2 separate regions of the Homo sapiens genome follow, and region 2 is linked to region 1. The links come from fine-mapping of genetic effects on plasma protein levels. A gene starts in region 1. The other region holds a variant in brackets. All regions are shown on one strand. Distances are from middle to middle.

Region 1 (8,000 bases):
CTGGAGCTGCAGCACAGCATCCCCCTGGGCCCCAACGTCCTCCCGGTCTGTCTGCCCGATAATGAGACCCTCTACCGCAGCGGCTTGTTGGGCTACGTCAGTGGGTTTGGCATGGAGATGGGCTGGCTAACTACTGAGCTGAAGTACTCGAGGCTGCCTGTAGCTCCCAGGGAGGCCTGCAACGCCTGGCTCCAAAAGAGACAGAGACCCGAGGTGTTTTCTGACAATATGTTCTGTGTTGGGGATGAGACGCAAAGGCACAGTGTCTGCCAGGGGGACAGTGGCAGCGTCTATGTGGTATGGGACAATCATGCCCATCACTGGGTGGCCACGGGCATTGTGTCCTGGGGCATAGGGTGTGGCGAAGGGTATGACTTCTACACCAAGGTGCTCAGCTATGTGGACTGGATCAAGGGAGTGATGAATGGCAAGAATTGACCCTGGGGGCTTGAACAGGGACTGACCAGCACAGTGGAGGCCCCAGGCAACAGAGGGCCTGGAGTGAGGACTGAACACTGGGGTAGGGGTTGGGGGTGGGGGGTTGGGGGAGGCAGGGAAATCCTATTCACATCACTGTTGCACCAAGCCACTGCAAGAGAAACCCCCACCCGGCAAGCCCGCCCCATCCCAGACAGGAAGCAGAGTCCCACAGACCGCTCCTCCTCACCCTCTACCTCCCTGTGCTCATGCACTAGGCCCCGGGAAGCCTGTACATCTCAACAACTTTCGCCTTGAATGTCCTTAGAACCGCCTTCCCCTACTTCATCTGTTGACACAGCTTTTATACTCACCTGTGGAAGAGTCAGCTACTCACCCGCTATTAGAGTATGGAGGAAGGGGTTTTCATTGCATTGCATTTCTGAAACATTCCTAAGACCCTTTAGTTGACCTTCAAATATTCAAGCTATTCTGCAGCTCCAAGATGCAATTATAGAAACAGCTCCTTTTTTATTTTATGTCCTCTATATGCCAGGTGCTTCACCTGTTATTTCACTTAATCCTCATACCATATTTGCAAAGGATGTGTTATTATCTATGTGTGACAAATGAGGAAACTGAGGCTCAGGGGATAAAGGGACTTGCCCAAGTCCCACAGCTGGTGTGTGACTGCAGAGACTGTGCTCTTCCCAGTGTGCTGCAATACTTCTCAACCCTCCTCTAACCTGCTGTGTCACCCGCTTTCCCTCCCAGCCCCCACATCCTTACCATTTTCCCTCCCTGGGAATTCCTGCTTCTGCGAAAATGGTATCCTCTAGCTCACACTTTCCTAATGGCCCCATCTCCTGCAGAAGCCAGGTGAGCCCAGCACTGGACTGAAGTTCTTGCAGACACCCCACCTGTGCCCCTATCATCAGGGGAACTGCTCCACCTGAGAGGACCAACTCTTTAATTTTTAGTAAAACCTGGAGGTGATGGGCCGGGCGCAGTGGCTCACGCCTGTAATCCCAACACCTTAGGAGTCCGAGGTGGGTGGATCACGAGGTCAGGAGATCCAGCCCATCCTGGCCAACATGGTGAAACCCCATCTCTACTAAAAATACAAAAATTAGCCGGGCGTGGTGACACGTGCCTGTAGTCCCAGCTACTCGGGAGGCTGAGGCAGGAGAATCACTTGAACCTGGGAGGCGGAGGTTGCAGTGAGCTAAGATCACGCCACTGCACTCCAGCCTGCGGACAGACCAAGACTTCATCCCCCCCAAAAAAAAAAGATTGGAGGTGATTTACAGTGAAAGACACAAATAAAATACAACTGTTCAATGGAAATAGAAAATAAACACCATAAAAGAGAGAAGAGAGGTAATTTGTTAGCATCAAGAGTCAAGTTGCTATATGGTCAAAGGTTAAATTTATCTCTAAAAAATGGCAGGATTCAAAGTTGTACATACATGTGATTACTTCTGTTTTTTACACCCACATACAGTACAAAAGATTATTAAAAATATTCCCAAAAGGCAGGTGCAATGATGCACACTTATACCCCCAGCCACTCAGGAGGCTGATGCAAGAGGATCGCTTGAGCCCAGGAGTTGAAGTCCAGCCTAAGCAACATAGTGAAACCCCATCGCCAAAAATATAATAATAATTCTCTCAAAATACTAAACAGAGGTGGTTTTATTGATAAGATTTTGGCTGTTTGGTTTTCCACTATTCTCTATTGGCTAAAATTTGTTTAATGAGCATGAAATGTTTTTATTTTATTTTGCTTATTTTTATGATTGCAAAAAATGATATGAGTTTCTCCCTGCCAAGGCAAAAAAATATATATATACCTATATTTATATGTGTATGTCTAGATCTATATCTCTACATCTCCATCGCTGTCTCTGTCTAGAGATAGAGATATCGACAATGAGAGAGAGAGGGAGGTAAGAGATAGAGATGATGGAGATAGATGAGCTAGCGATAGAGACATATCCACAGAGGAAAACCTACCACTACTTTAAGAGAGAAATCTTTTTCCCAAGAATCAAATCCTTAAAGGAACAAACACTGTAACCGACTATATCCTCAATAATTGTTTTAAAACAAACGCAGCAGCATTTCATATGGCATTTTTTTCCTTCTTGGTATGAGTCAAGGACAAAACAAAGTCAAGGACATAACAAAAATGTGTGAGTAAAGGTTATTTTGAATGGTTGGGCAGAGTGGAGACAGGGCTGGGACTGAGCTAATGACATCCAGGTTTGCCGCTCTCCAAGCGTGTTGCACAATGCCAACGCAGAACTGAGAATCCCTAGGATGGACGGAAGAGCTTCAGCTAAGACTTACCTCCTTACCTGTTCCCTCTGCCTCCATTATGAACATACGGCACATGCGCGCGTGCACACACACACACACACACAAACTGCTGCTAGGATATTAATGTGCAGTTTGTTAGACGAGATTCCCCTTCCTTCTCGTCCTCTGATCTGGTGCTTTTCCTTCTCCCCCATCTTTTGTCTTTCCTGATCTAACAAGGCTGTGGATCATATGCTGATCCCATCACAGACCAGCCCTCCGTTAGGTTCAGTCCTCAGCTCTGACACACAGGCCTGCTGGAGAAACCCTCCAAGCGTTGGTGGATCTTGCACCTTCTGTGTGCCTGCTGTCTAACTACTGATGATGTGGTCACTGCCTGATGGGGAACTGCATCAGCTCTGTGAATTCTTGCAATCTATTGCCTGGGAAAGTGTCTTGCACATTAAACAGGTAGCCCATAAATGGATGAACGGGGGTGGGGGCAGAAGGGTGGAGGTTGGAGGGATTCATCTAATAAGGGAAACAAGCAGAACAGCCTACAAAGGCTTAAGAACGCAGAGTCCTGCTCTGCAGCCCAAGCCCCTCCGTGGGATGAAGTGCCATCAGATATTTGGTGCCATGGAGAGTTGATGAAGAAAGCCTTCCAAAAACAATGAAATTGTTTTTTAATTTATTTTAACTTTTAGAGACGAGATCTCACTATGTTGCCCAGGCTGGTTTCGAACTCCTGGGCTCAAGAGATCTTCCCACCCTGGCCTCGAAAAGTGCTGGCATCACAGGCATGAGCCACCACACGTGGCCAAGAGCAAAAGTTTTAAAGCAGGACACTATGGCCTGATGGACAGGAGAGACTAGGGTCCCTCCTCCCTCCCAGGGGCCTGGCTTCATCTCAGAAAAACCGAGTCCCTCTTGCTCCACACCCGCATCCTTAGCTTCAGCCCTGGCAGTTGTGTTGAGCAGATGCTAAGGAGATGGGGACATTTTACCCCCTCCGCAGCCGCCCCAGAGGGTCTCAAACCCAGGGCTGATTTAGGGTTGCCCTGACATGGCCAACCCTATTCTATGTCCAAGTGTCATTCATGGCTAAAGCAGGCCAGGGCCCCAAGGCAACCAAGCTCCTCTCTCCTCTGCCCGCTCCCACACACCCTCCTCTGCCCCAGTGTTCCTATCATTACGTCCTGGGCATTGAAACCCGGGCCATTCTTGGACCAGGGCTGTGGGCTGAATGAGGGCAGGAAGAACAGGGTCAATGGGAAAGGACAGCCCAGAAAAGAGAATTCACCACCACCTGTGGTCTCCCACTGCTTTGGTAGGAACCTTGTAAACACAGCAGCAGCCCCCAGGAAAGTCTTGGAAGAAGGGAGAAGCTGATCAGATTTAGAGACTGAGACATCTGGGCCTCCAACCCAAGGCTCCCCGGGCCCTAAAAAGCCAGACTCCCGTCTCCTTAGCCCTTTCCCTCACCGACCAGCAGGTGGCACCACAAACAGGGATTTCAAAACCAAAACTAAATTAAAGTGGAAACTCAGATCTTTTGTTTATGCAAATAGTTCATTCCCTCCAACATTCCTCCGGGAATGGTCCCCCCTCCACTCCACAGAAAACCCTCCCCTCCCTGCTGTGCATGACGCGGGCTCCCTCTGCACACAGTGCACGAAGACGCTGTCGGGAGAGCCCAGGATTCAACACGGGCCTTGAGAAATGTGAGTAAGGGTGATGGGCAACCAGGTGGGAGGGAGAAGCCAGGGGAGAAGCCAGGGCATGGGAGGCAATTCAGGGAGACAGGAACACCCTTCTCTCTTCACACACCTCATCAGTTCCACTGTGCACACGCGTGGACACACACAACACACGCCCCATCCCTCCTCCTAGGGATCAGAGGAGACTTCATACATAGATGCTCATGCCATGGTCCTTTCTTCCCTCTGGGCTCTTGGCAGGGAGCAGCGAGAGGAGGGGACCCCTTGCCCAGGACGGGACACTCTGTGCCTGTGTCCCCCACTCCACAGATGGTTTCTCCCAGACGCTCTTGCTGAACCTGTGGGAGCCCTTTCAGAGACCCACGGGTGGAAACCCTCACCCTCCATTAACTGGTCCCAAGCCAGTCCTATTCCTGGAAGGGGAGGGGAGGGACGCGTCCGGGCAGGGGAGGAGGCTGGAAAGGGAGTGTGAGGGGAGTGTGGTGGCCTCTGGACTGGACACTGCCCTGGAGAGTGACCCGATGCAGCAGCTGCACAGGCCATCCTCCCCACCCACGCACCCCTGCTGAGAACATGTCTGTGAGGTTCAGGGTGGGCAGAGAGGAGAATGCCCAGTGGTATGGCCGTCTCATCCCCTGCCACAGCCACTGCCCACATGGCAAGAGTGCTGAACCCCTCCAGCTCCAGATACTCTCTTTTGTTTTGGCAGGTGGCTCTTGTACCTCCTGGTGCCGGCCCTGTTCTGCAGGGCAGGAGGCTCCATTCCCATCCCTCAGAAGTTATTTGGGGAGGTGACTTCCCCTCTGTTCCCCAAGCCTTACCCCAACAACTTTGAAACAACCACTGTGATCACAGTCCCCACGGGATACAGGGTGAAGCTCGTCTTCCAGCAGTTTGACCTGGAGCCTTCTGAAGGCTGCTTCTATGATTATGTCAAGGTAGGGGCAGGATGGGCGGGCAGAGGGGAGACAAAACTGGGCCCTCTGGGATCTGGGATCTGTATGGCATGCACACCCCCAGACACAGCCCAGCCCCACAAGAGCTGATGGCCAACGGCCTCTCTGAGAGCCCGGGGATGCCCTGGATGGGCGCTCACTGGTGTAGAGGCCCTCGGTGAGCACTGAGGGGAGAAGCACAGAGAAGGAAGGGGACAGGACCCACTCAGGAAATTCAACATCCACTGAGTCAGGAAAACCTTCCCCATCTGCTGTCTAGCTGAGAGTCTTTGGGAAACCACTGTGCCTCAGCTTCCCTGTCTCCAAGGAAATGATTGACATGGCTGCCTGCTTCAACAGGAACACAGGGACATGAGGAGGAGAAATGTGGGCTCTGGCAGCACAGGAATAGCCTTCAGCAAGGACAGTGTGCTCAGAACCCTCACCTCTGTGGCAACCAAGGGTACCTTCCCAGGCCTGTCTTTCTCTATCCAGTAAAAATGAGATTCAGGGCTCAAGCAGAGCCTGCGAAGGTCCAACAACTACCATTCCCAGGAGACCCCTGGAGATTATGCGTGAATTACATGACAATGGCACGTCTTACCGGCTCAGAAGACTTGGCGAGTGTGCAGTGTTGGGGGAGGGCGTTTGCTGGCAGAGTCAAGGAGAGGTTGAGGAGGCTGTGAGGAGGAAGGAAGAGGGACGAGGCAGTGCCTGCTGACACTGAGATGGGTGGGCTTCAGGGCTCATGTTCCGCCGAGGGCATCAGGAGGCACTCGAGGTGTGAATGGTTTGATTAGGCTGAGGTGGAATCTGAAGACAGAAAATAAAGCGGAGCTGTCTGAGCTCTGGGAATGAGGGGCAGGTAAAGGCTGGGTACAGACAACCAGGACCCCAGGGGAACAGGCCATAGGAGGTGGTGGGGATGGAGAAGGACCTGAAACCTGCCAGAGGAGCAGAAAACAGGGAAAGGGTGAGGTACCCAGTCCAGGACAACACGCAAAGAGTGAGTCAGTGGGAGACTCAGGGAACAGCTGAAAGTCACATGGGGAAGTTTGCAGCAGCTGAGCCCAGCAGGTAGTGACCAGCCAGAGCCATTGTGGTGCATGATGCACTCTGGGCGAGACAAGGAGGACCATCACTGAGCCACCACGTGCGCCACTCCGCAACAGATCTTCTTCCTACCCCCTGTCCTTCTTCCACCAGATCTCTGCTGATAAGAAAAGCCTGGGGAGGTTCTGTGGGCAACTGGGTTCTCCACTGGGCAACCCCCCGGGAAAGAAGGAATTTATGTCCCAAGGGAACAAGATGCTGCTGACCTTCCACACAGACTTCTCCAACGAGGAGAATGGGACCATCATGTTCTACAAGGGCTTCCTGGCCTACTACCAAGCTGTGGGTGAGTAGCCCCCCAGGGATCCCTTTTCTCTGACCTCAGCCATATTGAATGGGGGGCCAAGAAAGGGAATCTTGAATGCAAAGAAGCCGAAAGCCTGGCTTTCCTTGTTCCTCCCCTCGAGAGAGCTTTTCCTAACGAGGCCTGTCAACCTGGGCTCTGTCCCCATGGAGCAGTCCCCAGAGAGCATTGGAGAGGCCTGGAGGTCCAGGTGGCCTAAAGATGCCTTTGTCTTTAGGTCTCTGGTGAGTGACCTCCCTAAGATCAGAGCCACTACTCAGGTCTCCCAGCAGAAGCTTAACCCTCCTTCCTGAATGCCTTCCAGACCTTGATGAATGTGCTTCCCGGAGCAAATCAGGGGAGGAGGATCCCCAGCCCCAGTGCCAGCACCTGTGTCACAACTACGTTGGAGGCTACTTCTGTTCCTGCCGTCCAGGCTATGAGCTTCAGGAAGACAGGCATTCCTGCCAGGGTGAGCCAGAGTGGTGTAGCAGAGGGGAAGGGGTTGAGCCAGGGCTTGCTGGGCCAGCTGGAGTCCCCCGTAATGCCCTGTGGCTCTGCTCTCACAGCTGAGTGCAGCAGCGAGCTGTACACGGAGGCATCAGGCTACATCTCCAGCCTGGAGTACCCTCGGTCCTACCCCCCTGACCTGCGCTGCAACTACAGCATCCGGGTGGAGCGGGGCCTCACCCTGCACCTCAAGTTCCTGGAGCCTTTTGATATTGATGACCACCAGCAAGTACACTGCCCCTATGACCAGCTACAGGTACAGCCGTCCTACCCCTGAAAGACCCCTTCCTCCCCTTCTGTCTGCACTTGGCTCCTCTTGTCCCAACTTCCTCCTGGATCCCCTGGCCAGCTGGGGCAGGAACGGCCAACATCACCCATGGGCTGGGTAAGTTCCCACACAACTAGAATTGGGTCATGGGGATCCCTTTTCACCTTCCCCTGAAAACACACATAAGGCAGGATTTCATCACCACCACCACCACCCTGGCCACCAGGCTACTACCCAGTTGGCCCTGTGTAAAAACGTCCAAGCTGAAAAAAAAAAACCCTCCTCCCCTACTAGATCTATGCCAACGGGAAGAACATTGGCGAGTTCTGTGGGAAGCAAAGGCCCCCCGACCTCGACACCAGCAGCAATGCTGTGGATCTGCTGTTCTTCACAGATGAGTCGGGGGACAGCCGGGGCTGGAAGCTGCGCTACACCACCGAGAGTAAGGCTCC
Region 2 (8,906 bases), 23 kb after region 1:
AATATTTCACACTCAGTCCTTAAGCAATGAAGACAAAAGAAATGATTTGTTTCCACATTAAACCTAAAGGGAGATAGATACACAATGCAAACAGCCCATTTGGAGATGAGGCAGAACACAATGGTTACAATCAGAATGAGCTCCTTCCTGGCAGCTGCAGGTCTTCTGTGTTCTTTGTAGTCCCTTATAGAGGAAGAGAGATTTTTTTTAAAACAGATGCTTCCATTCAGGAAACTAGGTCCATCAGAGACTTTCCCTGTAGGTTTTGCTCTGGGGGGGGGGGGTTCCCCCGTTGTGGTTCCTGTTACCACAACTTCATCTCCCTCAATATGTCCAGTCTCTGCTTTTCTCTGGTTCAAGGGTGGACATACCCAAAATCAATTTCCTCTTAGGACAAATGAGAGAAGCTGGATCTTTCCAATGTGTCTTTTTATGATTGTAAGAGAAAATAAAAAAGGATGTGAGTACAAAACGTAGCAAGAGGGAAATCTTGGTAGTGATGGAATTGTTTCGTATCTTGACTGCAGAGGTGCTCACATGAGTCTCCAATGTAGTAAAATAACACAAAACTGCCCTTGCACATTGTACCAACATGAGTTTCCTGGTTTAGATATTGTACTGTAGTTACCTAAGATGTAGCCATTAGGGGAAATAGCGCCTCTCTGTACTAACTTTGCAACTTCTTGTGAATATGTCAAAAGAAAAAGGGTTTTGTTAAATCATTATTTTAAAAACCATGGCAGAGTTTGTGGATCTGATCAAGATTAAATAAAGCTGTGTTGTGTCCGTGTGTGTGTGTGTGTGTGTGTGTGTGTGTGTGTGTGTGTGTGTGAGACGGAATCTCACTCTGCTGCCCAGGCTGGAATGCAGTGGTGCCATCTCGGCTCACTGCAATACCAGGTTCAAGCGATTCTCCTGCCTCAGCCTCCCGAGTAGCTGGGATTACAAGCACCTGCCACCACACCTGGCTAATTTTTGTATTTTTAGTAGAGACAAGGTTTCACTGTGTTGGTCAGGCTGCTCTCAAACTCCTGACCTCATGTGATCCATCCTCCCTGGCCTCCCAAAGTGCTGGGATTACAGGTGTGAGTCACCACGCCTCACATCATATTTTCAATTTTTAAAATAATAACCAATATGCAGGAAAAAAGTCACATTTCCACTGAATATGTTTCTGATTCTAGCAGTCACTGTAAAGGAAACTTTAGAGTCCCAGGATCCCTTCTAGCCCCTTCTGGGCTGGTCCAGTTTCAAGTAGGTTCAAGCCCTCTTGACCACCGGACATTGTCTTTCCTCCCTGGCATGAGTTGCTGACCCACCAGTCCATTTTCTTCTGACCAAAGAAAAGTGACAATTCACCTTCTTCAAAAAGCTAACTCTTTTCCTGAGTTTCAGATGAAGCGGACATATGTTCCCAAGTAACTTGCAAGGTACTACGATGGATACCCTTTAAACACAATGAATGACTTTCTAGCCCCTCTAGGACCTGATGACAAGCTCTTCCCAGCTCTGAAGTCTCTGATCATGATTCATTTAGGTCTTCTCCCTGCCATTCACCCAGAGAAATGACCTTGCAGCACAGTCAACGATGCAAAGCCCATTCCCGTCATGCCGTACAAGGTGGCAGCAAAGAGGGAAATTCTTCACCAATACCTCAGCCCATCAGCAAGGGCAGAACCCAAATAGACTGGTGATTCTCCGAGAGGGATGAACTTCCTTTTTCTGTTACTTGTCAGATTCCAGGTTAATTTTTTGCTATTGCCCCAAGTATAAAAAAAGAAGAACAATATCCCTTTCACAGACCATGTTTCTAAATCTTAATATTCCTCCAATGCCTTTTTATCTCTAGAAGAATCCTCCTCTCACGGAAACACTCTCACCCAGGGCACACTGTCAACTCCATTGCTCCTGCAATGACAGGAAGGGTGAGGAGGTGGCTATGAGGCATACAGTTCAGGAGTGACACAGTGACTTTATGCTGCTTGGTTGACCATATAATCCTCCCAGGGACTCCCTGTTGTAATTCCCTTCAATTCTTCAGGCCCTTCAATTAGAGTTCCTCTGGTTACCTCATCACGTTTACCCTGCGGTCTAAGGTCAACTGTTGAATTTAGCCCTCTTGGTCTATGGAATATCAAAGTCCATTCTTGATGGGCCCAAACCAACCTTTTTTGGCTTCTAGTAAAAACTGCCCTCCTGAAAGCCACGTGTCACATCAAATAGGTCAGATTCCCCCTCAGCTCTTCCTCTCAGACCTCCGCTTTCCTAAGACGCCCTGTTAGGGCAACCGCTGTCCTAAGATAGTTGTCCTGTCCTCAGTTTTTAAAATGCTAAGTCTCTATTCTGTAGTCATTTCTCATCACTAATCATTCTTTTGGAAGAGGAATCTTTTCTTTTCCTTCCCCTAGAAAATAGAAGGGAGAGTTTTGGGGTCCATCCTTACCGAGATTTTCTGCTATGTCATCTTGGTACAGAGTTCAGTCTAATGAAAACATTGTCACAAATTGATTAAAACCACCAGGAAAGCAGACAAGAGCATGCTCAATTTCTTTAGTTTTTCTTTTTTGTTGTCATAATATTGCATGATACAATGAGTATTAGAGGAAAATTAACTTTCCGTTCACATATTGAAACAATTTCTACTTAAAGAAGATCTTAAACAGCCAACTCAAACTATTGTACATGGATTTCTGAATGAGGTGGGGTTTTTTTATTTTGCTTTGTTCCAGATAATGTCTCACTCTGGTTGCCCAGGCTGGAGTACAGTGGCATGATCACTGCAACCTTGACCTCCTGGGCTCAAGCGATCCTCCCAACTCAGCCTCCTGAGTAGCTGGGACTAAGGCACGCACCATCATGCCTAGCTAATTTTTATTTTTTATTTTTGTAGAGACAGGGTCTCCCTATGTTGCTCACACTGGTCTTGAATCCCTGGGCTCAAGCAATCCTCCCACCCCTGCCTCCCAAAGTGTTGGGATCACAGGTGTGAGCCACGCACCACATGACATTTAATGAGCTTCTTTTTTTTCTTATTTTTCTTTTCTTCTTTTTTTTTTTTTTTTTTTTTTGGCCAGGTAAATATTAATGAGTTTCAAAAGCAGAATGTGATGCCTTACACTGGCGATCTTCATACTAACCCACAATATTCAGTAAATCTCATTTGGAAGAGAGAAGAAAAGCTGAATTCCCTGTTTTCGTGACAATTAAATTAAATATTAGTTGCTGGATGCCCAATTTCAGTGACATAACAGCCTTCTCATCCCATTCCCCTTCTATAATTCTGAGGGTTTGGTGTGGAATGAGGTAAGTCACACAAAATTTGCTTATAAACATCCTTTATTGTACATAGACAGTGGATACTGAGAATGATCAAGTAAATGGAATTTTGAACAGGTAAAGAGGAAACAAAGAATTAAGGTATCCCTGTGGAATAGTGCAAGAAAGGAGTGCCCCACCCATAGTGTTATCTACAATAGGTACTCCGGGGAAAGGACCCCAAGGAGTCAGACCACAAATGTATGACCAGCACAATTCTATGATCAAACTCTACCTCTAGCAAGGCGTCTCAACAATCAAGTTCTATTTAAATCATTCGCTCGTGTCTTCTTTCAGTCATGATGAAATAATGAGAATATCATAAGGAACAGAAGGTAATGCATTGGTCACCACCCTTGGAGAGGCTGGTGGGATGTATCTGGATTAGTCCTCACGGGGGGTGCTATTTTCCTGCATAGTCTTCATTATCCAGTCAACATAGTTCTTTACCCGTGTGTAGAGCCCATAGGTCCCACACTGGGGCCCCCAGGACACCAGGCCAGCTGCGTAGAATTTGGTCTTGTCATTGGGATCCTGTACAGCAAAGGCCCCACCACTGTCCCCTTTACAGCTATCCATGCCCTTCTCTCCTCCAGCACAGATCATGTTAGGAGTGAAAACATAGGCCTCTGCATCTGCTGTGGGTTTCTCCACTTTCACTTCTTTGCATTTTCTTAAAGGAGCTACAGGTAACCTTGCCGCCTTGAGGCGAACAGCACGATCTCTCTTCTCTGTTCGGCCCCAGCCTGAGATCAGTCCCAGGTCCCCATCCATGAGGTTGTAGTCGGAAGAGGTGCCTGGTAGGCAGATGGGAGAGACGGTGGGTCCCATTTTCACTGGGTCTTTCAGCCGCACCAGTGCAATGTCATTATCAAAATTGGTTCGTCCTTCTGGGACTTCCAGCAGCTTCCATCCCGGATGAATAAACACATGCTCAGGAGTGAGCATCTTGGATTTTGCCAGCCGTGAGGTCTGCACTGAGGTGGACCCAACATACATTGTTGGCTCCCTGTTTCCCTCCACAACATGAGCAGCCGTCAGCACCCAGTACTCATTAATGAGCGCTCCACCAGCCCATGGGTTGTCAAAGAAGACTTGCCAGGGGAAGTTTTTAATATCTGCATCGGATCCTCCAATTATCCTCTGTTTTTCTTCAAAGGGTTCTCTGGGGACTCCACAGACTAGGAAGGAATAAAACAACACAGGGAAGGAGGAAGAAATGATGCTGGCTTCCTGCAAATCCTCCAACCACTCACATAATGTTACCTGCTAGGTTGCAGGATTCTCTAGTACAAAATAGTCAACCCTATTTGGTCAACAATCTCAATACCTGACCCACTCTGGCCTTACCTAAACATCCCGCTTTGCCGATGTCATAAGCTGGCTCATGGGAGAGCTCAGTTAAACGGAGGCAGTGTGTGAATCACTGAGTCCAGATGCACTAATGCCTCACACTATCCACAGTGCGACCCACAGCCCCCCTGGAGGCAGGGGTCCCCTTTGCACCTCCCAACTCGGCACATGAGGCCGGTGCCCAATCAAGAGCCAGTGCTGGAAACCCTTTTCTCACACAGATGGTGGAGGAGGAAAGATTTCTGCCTTCTTCAGATGCCCAGATCAAACTTTAATCACCTTCTTTACTGGAGTCCTAGTTGCACCTGAGTCCCTCCTAGTAAACCACAGGTCAGCCTAGGAAGTAGAGAGGGGTCCCTTCTTTGGCCCTGACCTCTCACTCCCAGTGACTGGTGCCATTACCATTCAGTTATACTAATAACTGAATTCAAGTGAAGCTGCTTACTTAAATCCCTTACTAGACAGCCTGGAGGGACTCCAAGTTGAGCACAATGGGCTGTGAACTTAGACAGACCTGGGCTCAAAGCCTGCCTTTGCCACTTGCTAACTCTGTGAACTTGCACCCCACCCATTCACATTTGACATTGGTCAGATAAGACCAATGACACCTAGCTCACAGGGCTGTTATACGGACACGAATGAGATAATAAATGCAACAAATCAGCTCAGTCTTCAGCTTTCAGTACCACCCAGGATGGTTATTATCCTATTGGATTTGCCTCAGCCTTCTGCTACCCAACTCTTATCTTCCTCATTCTTTGAATTCCTCTATATCTTGCTGC[C/T]CTATAAACTTTTAATATAATAACTAGGCTATTTAGCTAGACTTGTTTCTGAGTGTTGATTACTCACACACTCTCAGCTTTCAGGCCCTGTTTTTAGCAGTTCTGTATCTTCTCACTGCAGCTACATTACCAGACACCAACTGTCGCTGGCTGACGTTTCTATTTCCTTCCAGTTGGCCTGGCTTCAGTGCGGCTGAGGAGGTTCCCCACGGCCCTGGCAGCCCACGGCACAGTGATACTGCCACCTCACTGAGCTGGACTCTGGCAGGTCACTGTTCAGTCCTTTCCCAAGAGGATTACAGTTGCTTTCAGAAGGTGACTCCCAGTCACCCATGGCTATCATCTCTCCCCAAGCCTCAGCCCTCCTTACCTGGAACACATTTCGGCAGCTCCGGGCCCAGCACCTCATTCACCCAGCTCCCGTTACCAGCACAGTGATACTCCCCTGGAATAGCACAGAGAACACAGGCCACACTCACCACCACATCTTCCTTCTTCCATTCCCCCCTCCGACCCCAACACCCTGCCCCGTTCCTTCAGAACCTCAGCTCGTCTAGGATTCAAGTAGTAAATCAGATTAAATCAGCCAGAAAAAAAATATCTTCCTCCAAACAATCCCTCAGGCCTCTAGCCTGCCAGGGAGACAAAGGGAACATCTCCAAAGCAGAAGGAAAGAAGGCATCGGGAAAGTGGCGAAATAAATACAGAGCAATGCAGAGAACGTATTAGGGTCTCATTCAGCCCTGCACCTAGCATGACCAAAGCCTCTACATCAAGAAAGCCAGTCAGTGTAGTTTGGTGGCTTAAAGCTGAAGGCATTGCTCCTGTGGGTTTTACATGAAATAACTGGTCAAAAGGTGGGTAATCCCATGAAATGGATGTTGTAGGGGAATTCCTGCTGCAGCTGTGAACTCAGTTGGTGACCTCTATGATTCCCTGAGGCTGATGCTCCCCTGAACTTGCCCTGCTCCAGATGAAAACTGTATCTTTGGACGAAGCCAAGGGGATGAACAATGTCTGTCCTATCGCCTTCATTTGTCTCCAAACTCTGTCTCTGGCACAGATTATGCTATCCACCCTCCAACACCTTCTCACTCTCTCTCTCTCTTCTCCAGTAGAAGAAACCTACCACCTCCTCCATTTTCCATGTAGTAATATGGCTCCTCACAAGTGTAGCGGATGACAGAACCAAACAAAGTGCTCTCTGGGTCTTCAACTTTACCATTCTCAATGGATTCAGGAATGCCACAGTCCACAGCTACCAGACGAAGGAAGGAGAGCGATGGTCAGGACAGCCACTTCCTCCAAGGAAGAGTCATGGGGCCAGGTTCATCCTCACTGCTTCCCCACCCCATATCCACAGGCACACCTGGGATGAACCTCCCCACACCAGCCTCTCTGTGGCCATCCTCCCCAACTGGCATCTCTCAGCTCTCTCACCCGCTGAGATGCCAATTCAGATGGCCCCATGAAAGCCGTAGTGAAGAGCCTGGTTCTCAGTGGTTGGTGAAGGCCCAGTGGAAGCCACAAATGCACCCACGTGGGGCTACTAACTCGACCTATCCCATAGCCCCTTTCTTGGAAAGAAACATGCCGATCTAGTTGGCCTGGGACCAGATGCGGGGCTGGGACTAGAAAAGCTTCCATGACTGGCTTCCCTTCAAAAACCCAACCCACTCCCTCACATGCCTAAGAGGAAACCATGCATTTGAATTTTGATGTGCTGATCTTTCCATTCTCTCTGAGAGAAAAAGAAAGACTTCCACTTTGAAGAGACACATACGTTGACATTTCAGTTTGGAATTACTCCACTTTCCATTGCTTTGACAAGTCGAATAGAAAGATGTTGCACCAACACGTCCCTGGAGAATAATAAACATCACCACTTATTTCTGAAGAGAGATATGGGAAACCAAAATCAAAACTGGAATTGATCTCTGGCCTTGGATCAATGAGGAGTCCTCACCACAAGAAGCTTGGGAACATCTTAGCAGACCTAAAGCACCCAGGAGATGAGGCTGACAGAAAGCTTTGCCCCAACGTGTCAACTCCCCTTCCTCAAGAAGACTGAAGGCAGAGAGAATGCCAAGCTGGCCAGGCAGCTCCATGACTCACAAGGGAGAACTACAGATCTTAAGCTGTTGTGTTTATGGGAAAGGTGTTATACCTTGATCACACACATACATTGGGTAAACAACTGGACAATTTCAGTCCGCTCATCCTGATCTGGGGCCAGGGACTGGGGAGAAGCCAAGGTGGTACTTTACCTCCACAACTTCAAACCCATCCAGACAGGTTATCTGCACCACATCTCTAAAGACATATTTTGCCTTCGCAGGCTCCCAAACAGAATTGGGAGTGTCTTCCTTAGGGCAGGGCATTGCTTGAAAGAACAGAAGTTGGGACAGGAGGAAAAAATTACTAAATAGTTGAAGACTCTCATTCTATTTACATCATTCTCACACTTTCTAAAATCGTCCAGTTGTCCTCAATCCTGATGCTTAACATTCCAATACAGCAGATGTCTAAAATCATATGGCATTACCAACTAACCACCCGCAAGCTGTCTGCAGTCTCAGGTCTAGTTAAAGGATTACTAGAGGTTGAGGCATTTCTAGCAACCGTTGACTGGTTTAGATTTTCCTGAAGAAGTGAAGTATCTCAGGATTCTATCAGAACAACAATCTATCTGTTTTTTAAATTATTGTTGCTTTGTTTTTGTTTTGTTTTAGAGACAAGGTTTTGCTCTGTTGCCCAGAGTGGACTCAAACTCCTACTTCCTGGGCTCAAGGGATCCTCCTGCCTCAGCCTCCCTCGGTAGCTGAGATCACAGGTGCTTCCAGTGTGCCTGGATCATCTACCTGCTTTGATCCCACATTGTTTGGGGACTTTGGTATCACCAACCAAAGAGGCACTTCTAAGTTACTCACGATCTCCATGATAGCGAAGTTTCCAGCCCTTTTTTTGCCCTGTTAGATCAGTTTGGAAGATGATATCAAGAGCATTACTCTTGGTTTCAATATTTAGAGGCCCAGGGAATCCATGACCACAGTAAGGACCAAATTGCCGATCTCCTGCAACAAACTGAACAAAATGATGAAATCAGAAGAGGGAAAGAACTAAAGGGAAGAGGTAAAATTGGGAAGTGGGAGATACAAATAAAAGAGGCATTAAATGTCACATAAAATAAGAAGAAAATAAGGGTCAGGAGAAAAGATAATTTTATCTTCAGGCTGAGTGCAGTGGCTCACACCTATAATCCCAGCACTTTGGGAGGCCGAGGTGGGAGCATTGCTTGAGGCTAGGAGTTTCAGGCTATCCTGAGCAACATAGCAAAACCCCATCTCTGTAAAAAAAAAAAGAATAACAATAAAAATATTAGCTGGGTTTGATGACACACGTCTGTGGGCCCAGCTACTCAGGAGGCTGAGGTGGGACGCTTGCTTGAGCCCAAGA

Alleles and levels. Alleles are on the strand shown, and positions count from the first base shown. The strength of an association depends on the size of the effect and on how common the allele is.
For the plasma level of the protein whose gene starts at base 4,384 in region 1, T is the low allele of the variant in region 2 and C is the other (strong association).

Evidence for each region. A credible set is the group of variants that fine-mapping cannot tell apart. PIP is the chance, under the fine-mapping model, that this variant and not a neighbour inherited with it causes the effect. The UK Biobank Pharma Proteomics Project read protein levels with antibody pairs (Olink). The fine-mapping took linkage between variants from a reference panel, not from the people measured, so its PIPs are less certain.
Region 2: its variant is the best candidate, but not a certain one, in a credible set for the plasma level of the C1R protein (UK Biobank, PIP 0.64).

The regions. Positions count from the first base shown.
Region 1 is chr12:7,088,829-7,096,828 of GRCh38, reverse strand. It overlaps C1R (complement C1r), which reads left to right and starts at 4,384. Exons shown (of 11, transcript NM_001733.7): 1 at 4,384-4,442; 2 at 5,149-5,377; 3 at 6,581-6,773; 4 at 7,096-7,242; 5 at 7,340-7,536; 6 at 7,843-7,990. The coding sequence starts at 4,441. C1RL (complement C1r subcomponent like) reads left to right here. Exons shown (of 6, transcript NM_016546.4): 6 at 1-2,275. The coding sequence ends at 438. RefSeq lists an enhancer at 4,042-4,336.
Region 2 is chr12:7,065,445-7,074,350 of GRCh38, reverse strand. It overlaps C1S (complement C1s), which reads right to left. Exons shown (of 12, transcript NM_001734.5): 7 at 8,381-8,534; 8 at 7,718-7,833; 9 at 7,234-7,312; 10 at 6,580-6,708; 11 at 5,821-5,895; 12 at 3,319-4,496. The coding sequence ends at 3,700. Among named protein-coding and RNA genes, the nearest start is that of C1S, 9.2 kb to the right of the region's middle. The variant C/T (reference allele first, on the strand shown) is at 5,451.